Regions from separate parts of the Homo sapiens genome. Here regions 1 and 3 are each linked to region 2. The links come from fine-mapping of genetic effects on gene expression. A gene starts in region 2. Each other region holds a variant in brackets. All regions are shown on one strand. Distances are between the middles of the regions. Region 1 overlaps MAP2K5 (mitogen-activated protein kinase kinase 5). Region 2 holds the start of MAP2K5 (mitogen-activated protein kinase kinase 5). Region 3 has its middle 16 kb from the start of SKOR1.

What was found. PIP is the estimated chance that this variant, and not a neighbour inherited with it, causes the effect. A credible set is the group of variants that fine-mapping cannot tell apart.
Region 1: its variant is the best candidate, but not a certain one, in a credible set for the expression of MAP2K5 in whole blood (TOPMed, PIP 0.88).
Region 3: its variant is the best candidate, but not a certain one, in a credible set for the expression of MAP2K5 in whole blood (TOPMed, PIP 0.50).

What each region holds. Positions count from the first base shown.
Region 1 is chr15:67,729,414-67,731,913 of GRCh38, reverse strand. The region is part of intron 17 of MAP2K5 (mitogen-activated protein kinase kinase 5); the gene reads right to left. Among named protein-coding and RNA genes, the nearest start is that of SKOR1, 95 kb to the left of the region's middle. The variant T/C (reference allele first, on the strand shown) is at 1,410.
Region 2 is chr15:67,541,535-67,544,034 of GRCh38, reverse strand. MAP2K5 (mitogen-activated protein kinase kinase 5) reads right to left here and starts at 1,332. Exons shown (of 22, transcript NM_145160.3): 1 at 565-1,332. The coding sequence starts at 699. It overlaps MAP2K5-DT (MAP2K5 divergent transcript), which reads left to right and starts at 1,405. Exons shown (of 1, transcript NR_186334.1): 1 at 1,405-2,500. RefSeq lists a silencer at 1,197-1,316 and enhancers at 2,190-2,239, 1,892-2,392.
Region 3 is chr15:67,808,543-67,811,386 of GRCh38, reverse strand. No RefSeq gene overlaps it. Among named protein-coding and RNA genes, the nearest start is that of SKOR1, 16 kb to the left of the region's middle. The variant G/A (reference allele first, on the strand shown) is at 1,300.

The sequences.
Region 1 (2,500 bases), 190 kb before region 2:
CCTCCAATGCTCAGCATTTCTCATCTATACAAGAGGCCTCCCTAGGGCAGAGAGGGCAAACTAGAAGAAGGGTTGTGGGGCAGAGTGGAAAGGAGAACAGGGGTATGAATAGCCAAACGAATTAAGAAGTTAAAGAGCCAGGGAGTTGGCTTATTTGTCTGCAAGTCCTAGACCTAACTGTACCCATTCCTGCCTAAAGCAAGGTACTTTGCCTCTCTGAGCCTGAGTTGGCTCACCTAGAGGCTGGAAATAAGTCCCTGCAGGTAGAATGCACAGCCTGAGTCAGGTAACAGCCTGAGACTGGAACCCTATGTGGGAAAGGTGCCAGGTGAAGCCAAGACACTATTGTTTTTCCTGTTATAGGCAGTAGTAATAAGACTGTGCTCCTCATGTTTTTTTTCTTTAGAACCCTAAACTGCATGCCAAGGAAGTTATGCAACCCAAAGGCCTAAAGGAAACTAAAACAGTGCTTTCAAATAACAAAGACCCAACCCACAAAACAATGAAACTCATACAGAATGGCTATCTCAACAAAAACCCAGCCCTTTAACCTTTATGTTGCTCCCAGGGCACTGACTGTCCCTAGTATCTTCCCAACACTCCTCCCTCTCTGCGACCTCACTGGGTACACACTGTGTCACCAGCAGGAAGAGGGGCTGCTAATGATGCTGTCAGCAGCACTGACACTGAGCTGGGGGAAAGACAAGTCTTGAAGCCGGCCCCTCCTCCCCACTTTACCCTCTGCTCATTTTATACTCTGCTCCAATTGTGGCTGGCATGTTGCTAAGAACATCCTTTTACAACCTATGATTGATAGCTGGGAAATTCTGTTTTGTGCTGCAGCCCAACATCTGATCCAGATGGGTGGCCCTTTGTACTTTTCAGAGTGGTTTCATATCCATAGTCTCATTTGATCAGCATACCTCCTTTAATCAGATAGAAGAGGTAGGCATTAGAATCCTCATTTTAGAGATGAGGAAACTGACACCTCAGAGTTACAAAGCAACAATTAAGACCTGCAGTGAGACTGTGGTAGCACCTAATTCTAATTCTAATACTCTGGCTCATGGTCCAGGGCTCCTTCCAATAGGCCACTCCTCTCAATTTGCCACTAGTGAAGACAACTCAGGTCTGGTGCCCTGATTAGACTTTAGGTTCACAGCAGCAATTCCCTGGCACTGTCCCTAGTCCTAGGAACAATCAAACCAATGTGATCTTAAGGATATATGAAAGGCTCTCATGTGTTCTAGGATCAGACTAGTGAGTGACACTTAGGATGAGATAGTTCTCAGCTTGATAAATAGAACACTGCTTTGACCCTGTGGATGCTTTGTAAGATAGTGAGTTTCTTGTCACTGGAAGTGTTCAAGCAGTGTGGATGTTTGCTTTTCAGAGACATTGTAGAGAAG[T/C]TTGATTTGATGATGTCTAAGATCCCTTCCAACTCTAAGAGTCTATGATTCACTCCTGCCTACTGCACTTGGGATTCAAAGAAACCAAACCAGTCACAGTTTTAACAGTGAGCAAATCAGCCATTCTGTTTGTCCAATTTATGAGGGGAGGCTATTTCACAGAGTGGTAGGAGTTCAAATGACATAACGTGGGCCAAAGAGAAGGTGTTATTCCATAACTCAGCCTCAGTGACACTATAAAAATACACATTTTTCTTCATGTGCTTTTTTTGAGGGCATAAGGGAGGGGTAGGAAAGGCATTTATAAAGTATCCTTTCCCAATCTTCAGCTTATAGTACAAAGCCTGTAAAATAAATGCCAACTCCACCAAAAGTCATTAGTGGTTCTAGCAACGACGCACCCCAACTTCTGTTGAAAAACTTAGGAAATAGGCCTAACGGCATCAAAGCTGCTTCTATTATTTCAGATAGAAGTAACAATTTGGTGACAACATTCTATCATGATTCAAGGAATACAGTTGTTTCCCGCCCCAACTCTGGTATAAAGGTTGTTGCTAACTAGGGAGTTCAGCATAGTATTAGAATTTTCCAACTTCCACTTGACTGATCAAGTAAAGATATATTTAGACATTCAGGAAAACCATACTGCAAAGGTAAATAGCCTCTTCTCAAATTTGACCACAGCTTTCATGTGCTTCACTTGTCAAATGTGGCAGTAATCCATTTCTTTTTTTTGTTTTTGAGACGGAATCTTGCTCTGTTGCCCAGGCTGGAGTGCAGTGGCGTGATCTCGGCTCACTGCAAGCTCCACCTCCCGGGTTCAAGCCATTCTCCTGCCTCAGCAGGGACTACAGGTGCCCGCCACCACGCCCGGCTAATTTTTTTTTTTTGTATTTTTAGTAGAGACGGGGTTTCACCATGTTAGCCAGGATGGTCTCAATCTCCTGACCTCGTGATCCGCCCACCTCGGCCTCCCAAAGTGCTGGGATTACAGGCGTAAGCCACTGCACCTGGCCATGGCAAAATCCATTTCTTAGACTCATCACCCATCAAATCTCACTGATTAACTACTCTAGACATTAGGAATCTCA
Region 2 (2,500 bases):
GGAGGCTGAGGTAGGAGAATCGCTTGAGCCCAGGAGGCAGAGGCTGCAGTGAGCCGAGATCGTGCCACAGCACTGCAGCCTGAGCGACAGAGTGAGGCCCTGTCTCAAAATAAATTAATGAAACAGTGTGCTCAAACATGGTAAGTTAAAGTTGTCCTTTTTCCCTTTCTCAGCTGGTCACCAAGTTCAGAGAACTCAGTAGAAAAACAAGGCTGGAATCTGTCCAAGGACATTCCCCGAAACACTTGGGGGGAAAAAACCTCTCTTCTAGATTCAGCAGTTTGCATTTGCGTGGTTGTGTCTATATGTGTGTCCCAGCCCGGGCCATGAGCTCTCTGAGGGCAGGGGTTCAGTCAGATTGATCTATCTCCCCAGGGTCCTAGACATTTGCCAGGTTTTAGTGGTTGCAATTTATCAATGCTGTGCCTGAAGCAATAAAACTGCCTCCACAGGAAGCCAGCAGTAGCCATTGCCACTGGCTCAGGTCACCAGTGGTCAAGGTGCTGACTACTCAAGTCCCTGAGTCCCCCTTGCTGGCATCCGGACACTGAGATTACCACTCACCAGCACATCCCTGAAGAGTAACTGCGGCCCGGAGTGCACTGTCCAGTCCACCGCGCCACTATTTGGGATCTTGATGCGAATTACCAGCACCTGGTTCTCCATGGCAGGAAAGGGGCCAAGGGCTAGCCACAGCATTACAGGTTAAAGAGGCTCACATCCTGGGGTATGGGAAACCCACTGGCCGCTGGTTAGGAGGGGGCTCCAAGAGGTGACAAGGGGAGTGACGGGCAGAGGACAGAGGGTGAAAACAAGGGAATGGAGGATGAGGGGGAGGGAAGAGGGGAGGGGTGATCAGGAACGCACCCGCAGGCACCGAGCCTGCCCAGGCTGTCGGGGGTCTGAGGTGTCTCCCGGGGAGGGTGCACCGGGAAGCGGGCAAAGGCCCGCAGGAACTAGCGGAGGTCGGAAGGTTCTGGAGTTGAGCGAACGCTATGGTGAAGGTCTCTGCCGCCGTGTGGGTATGAGGAGGCAGCAGGGCAAGGACTCGGTTTGGGGGAGATACAGCGGCAGGTGTCCACCGCTCGTCAGTGGACTAGGAGAGGGTCCTCGACTGGAGGGGACTCAGTCCGGGGCTATTAAGAAAGAGCCCCAGGGCCGCCACACCACGGAGAGTCCCCGCGGGAGGTTCAAGGGGCGAGTCTTCTGCCCCACCCGGAGACACAGGGCGCGGCGCGCGCAGGCTGAGCTCCGGCCACCCGAGGCCGCGCGGACTGGCGGCGGCTGCGGCGGCGGCGACGGCGGTAGCGGCGAGAGGAGGAGGAGGAAGGCGGCGGCGACACTGTTACTCCGGAACCAAAACGCGCGGCGCCGGAACCCCGGGAGCCGACGAGCGGGACCCGCCTCCCGCGGCGCCATGTTGGAAAAGGGCAGCAGCTCCCGGGAGGATGCGCCCCCGGCGTGGGAAGCCGAGGAACCGGCGCGCGGCGCGCGGCGCGTGGCGCGTGGCGAGTCGGGGAGAGACTGGTCTTGCTCGCTCAGGAGACCCTCATCGCCCACAGAGCGCCCGCGGCGACCCGGTCACGGCCCTTCCATTTCCTGACCCTGCTTAATGACAGCGAGGTGAAAACATCTACCAAACGAAGGGTAAAAGGCTGGAGTCCGCCAAAAGCCAATTTAAGGCTTAACATTGCAGACCGTTTGTCTTTACAAAAGCTTCAAAGACGGGGCTGCAGCTCCCGGTTATCCCCACTTTGTCAAGCCATGAATCTGAATGTTCGTGGGGTTGTGTGCATCGAATCAGCAAGAGCAAGGCAAGAATTCAAGAAATAGTTCTTTTTTATCCCCCCTTCCAAGTCACAGGTTCAGAGGATCATCATCTTTCTCCCACATTAGCAAAACATATTTGCATTTTTCAGTGAAGTTCTTTACCGCACGAGTGCCCTAAAATAGCAAACAGTTCCCTGTTCAAAAGCAATAGTAAAGAAATTCGCCGAAGAGTTTAATTGCCTGGGGACAGCTGCAGTAGTCGCATCATCGTCTCTTATTAAACTGTTGCAGAAATATTCGGTCTAGTCCATGTATTTTCAACTAAATAGCACTGCTTACGCAGTTGGTGATATGGTGATATCACGGAAGTAGCAATAAACCTTGGTTATCTTTTTTTTTTTTTTTTTTGAGACGGAGTCTCGCTCCGTCGCCCAGGCTGGAGTGCAACGGCGCGACCTCTACTCACCACAACCTCAGCCTCCCGGATTCAAGCGATTCTCCTGCCTCAGCACTACCACCCCCACCAGCCCCCAACCCCTGCCGAGTAACTGGGACTACAGGCGTGCGCCATCCGTGCCCGCTCATTTTTGTATTTTCAGTAGAGACTGGGTTTCACTATGTTGGCCAGGCTGGTCTCAAACTCCTGACCTCGTGATCCGCCCACCTCAGCCTCCCAAAGTGCTGGGGGGATTACAGGTGTGAGCCACCGCGCCCGGCCAACCTTGGTTAT
Region 3 (2,844 bases), 270 kb before region 2:
GGCTTCACCTGGAGGTTCCACTGGCCTGAGTGTGCAGACACCTGGAAGCATATGCCTCCCCAAAGATGCAGGTCTGTTCAGGCAGGGCACCCGCAGCTTCCCTCAGTGAGGCTGTACCATCCATTTCACCTCACTGGCCTGACCAACCCCCTAACTGGGCTGGGCCTTGGGTAGGGGCTCTGGGTCACACTACTTTGGACCACAAGGTCCCCGCCACATCTGGAGAAGAGGGTTCCACCTCTCCTTCCTCTGCCCCAGTGGACCTGTTGGAACATCTCCAAAGCCCTGGGATTCTGTATCCTGCATTCCCCACATGTGAAAACCAAAGACAGAAGCAAGGACGATGGGCTGAGTGTGAGAGGGCCTCCTGGCCTTCAAGCCAGAGACCTAGAAGCAGAGGAGGCACCTGCCTGTCATTGTGAACTGGGGCCCCGTGAGGATCCTCCTGTCCTGGAAACACTTCCTTCTAGGCTCCCCTGAAGGTCTGAGAGGCCTGAGGCTGCCTCCAGTGAGGGTTTCGTCTCTCAGAAGCTCCAGTTAGAAAGTGAGTGGGCGATATTGAGGATTGGAGCAAGAGATTCGAGCAGGACAGTGACAGGCCCCAAGGGCCTCAGGTCTGAGGGCCCCATCTCTGCACCCTACCTTCCCTCCCTCCTACCGTCCCACACCACAGGCACCCTCCCTATGCAGGCCCTGGGCCAGGTGCTGGGATAGAGGTGAGTTAGCCTCATCCCTGCCCTCAAAGGGCTCACAGTCTATATCCAGAGAAGGAAATAAAGAAGCTGCCAGCTAGGCGTGGTGGCTCACGACTGTAATCCCAGCACTTTGGGAGGCTGAGGCAGGCAGATCACTTGAGGTCAGGTGTTCAAGACCAGCCTGACCAACATGGTGAAACCCCATCTCTACTAAAAATACACAAATTAGCCGGGCATGGTGGTGCATGCCTGTAATCCCAGCTACTCGGGAGGCTGAGGGAGAAGAATCGCTTGAACCTGGGAGGCAGAGGTTGTGAGCTGAGAGTGCACCATTGCACTCCAGCCTGGACAACAAGAGCGAAACTCTGTCTCAAAAAAAAAAAAAAAAAAAAAAAAAGGCAGCAAAGAGGAGGTGCTGTTTGAGAGGGGCCTGAAAGGAAGAATAGGAATTAGCCACATGGATGGGGTGAGGGTGGGCGGGGGTGGCTTTCCAGCAGGGAAAGAGCTCATGCTGCCTAGGCCAGTCTCAGGCACTGCAGTGTTCTAGGTCTTAGCCTTCCCGCGACCTCTGAGGGCAGGGGCAGCTTGGCCTCTGGCCCCCAAC[G/A]GTGACTAGAGGAATCACTTCAACAGGCCAAAGAGGGACCTGCCTCCGGCCAGAGGGGTGTTAGCAGGAGAACCCCTCAGGGGTCACTCAGCTCCCCATCTTCTCGACTTCAAGGCAGAGGGGAATTTATAGTTGGGGGCTGCCCCAAAGTAGGGGCCCTTGACAGGGGGTCATGAGTGAGTGAGCTCCAGGGTCTCCACAAACCCTAGAGTTGTGAACAAAATTCTGTGCGTGCATGCATGTGGGTGATGTAATTTGGGGGCAAGGATGCTCACAGGATGAACCCAAATGGTGAGAACTCTGCTCTGGGACATCAGGACTGGGAGCAGCTCCAGGACACCGTGAGGTCAACCCCTACATTGACAGATGAGGAAACAGACTCAGACAGGAGACGTGCTTTGTTCAAGATCACCCTGAAAGTTGGTCTCCAGGCCAAAGCATGCGTCTGGAGCAGTGTTTCTCAGTGCTGTTGTGGGGCGCTCTGCACCTGTATCCCTGGGGAGCTGGTCAAAGAGATCCTTGGCCCGTTCCCAAAGGTACTAACATTATCTTGGCAAACCAGAGTTTGGGAGCCTCTGTGCTAGAGGACAGGGCATGTGTCTGTGTGTACATATGTGCACATGTGTGCTGTGTGTGTGGAGTTGACTATCAGAGCTGTGGCTAAGAGCAGGGCTCTGGGTCCCAAACAGTGCTTTGCTACTTGTTGGGTGACCTTGGGTAAGTCATCTGGCCTCTCTGTGTTTCAGTTTCTTCATCTGTAAAACGGGCAGAATAATCGTATCACCATCTACCTCCTGGGATCATGGTGGGGATTAAACGAATTGATACAGTGAGCCCTAAGCACACTGCCCAGCAAGGTACCTGCTCACTTTTCCTACCGCCCTTGACTTGGGATTTGGGGCTGACAGGTTTGCTGGATGAATCTTCTCAAAATAAGGATACGCTTTAGTCTGGGTGGTGGCTGATTCACATTCCAAGGTAGTCAGCCCCGTGTGGGAGCCCCTAAGCTTTCCCCACTCTCTGAGCGCCTCTTCCTGAGAAAGTCCATCATGTGCACTGCCCGCAGTTCTCCCTGCCCTGAGCACTGGGCCAGGGTCTTCCTGGCCGGGGTCCCATCCAATTCTGTGACCATCTAACCCCAGGGAAATGGCAGGTGCTCAGAGAAAGCTGGGAGCCTGTGCCTTGAAAAGCATTACTAAAAAGATGATGAGCCGACTCTGCCCTGGGAAGCACATGATGCCTCACATAGGGTGCCCTTCCATGGGGCACTGGACTGCACATGGGCTGGGAGTCACAGCTCCACAATTTTGGCCATTTGACCCACACACATTTATTGTGCAGAGCTGAGGCCTTGTTCTTTGTACTGGGGATACAGTGTGAAAAAGACTAGAATTTCTGCCCTTGTGGAGACCCCATTCTAATGAAGGGCAGAAGAGGAAGGAGACAGAAGAGAAAATAAGTAAAATTAGTGATGTATCACACAGTTCTGAATGCAGTAGAGGAAAATGGTGCAAGCAATGGGCACAGGCGGCCCCAGGGCAGGTG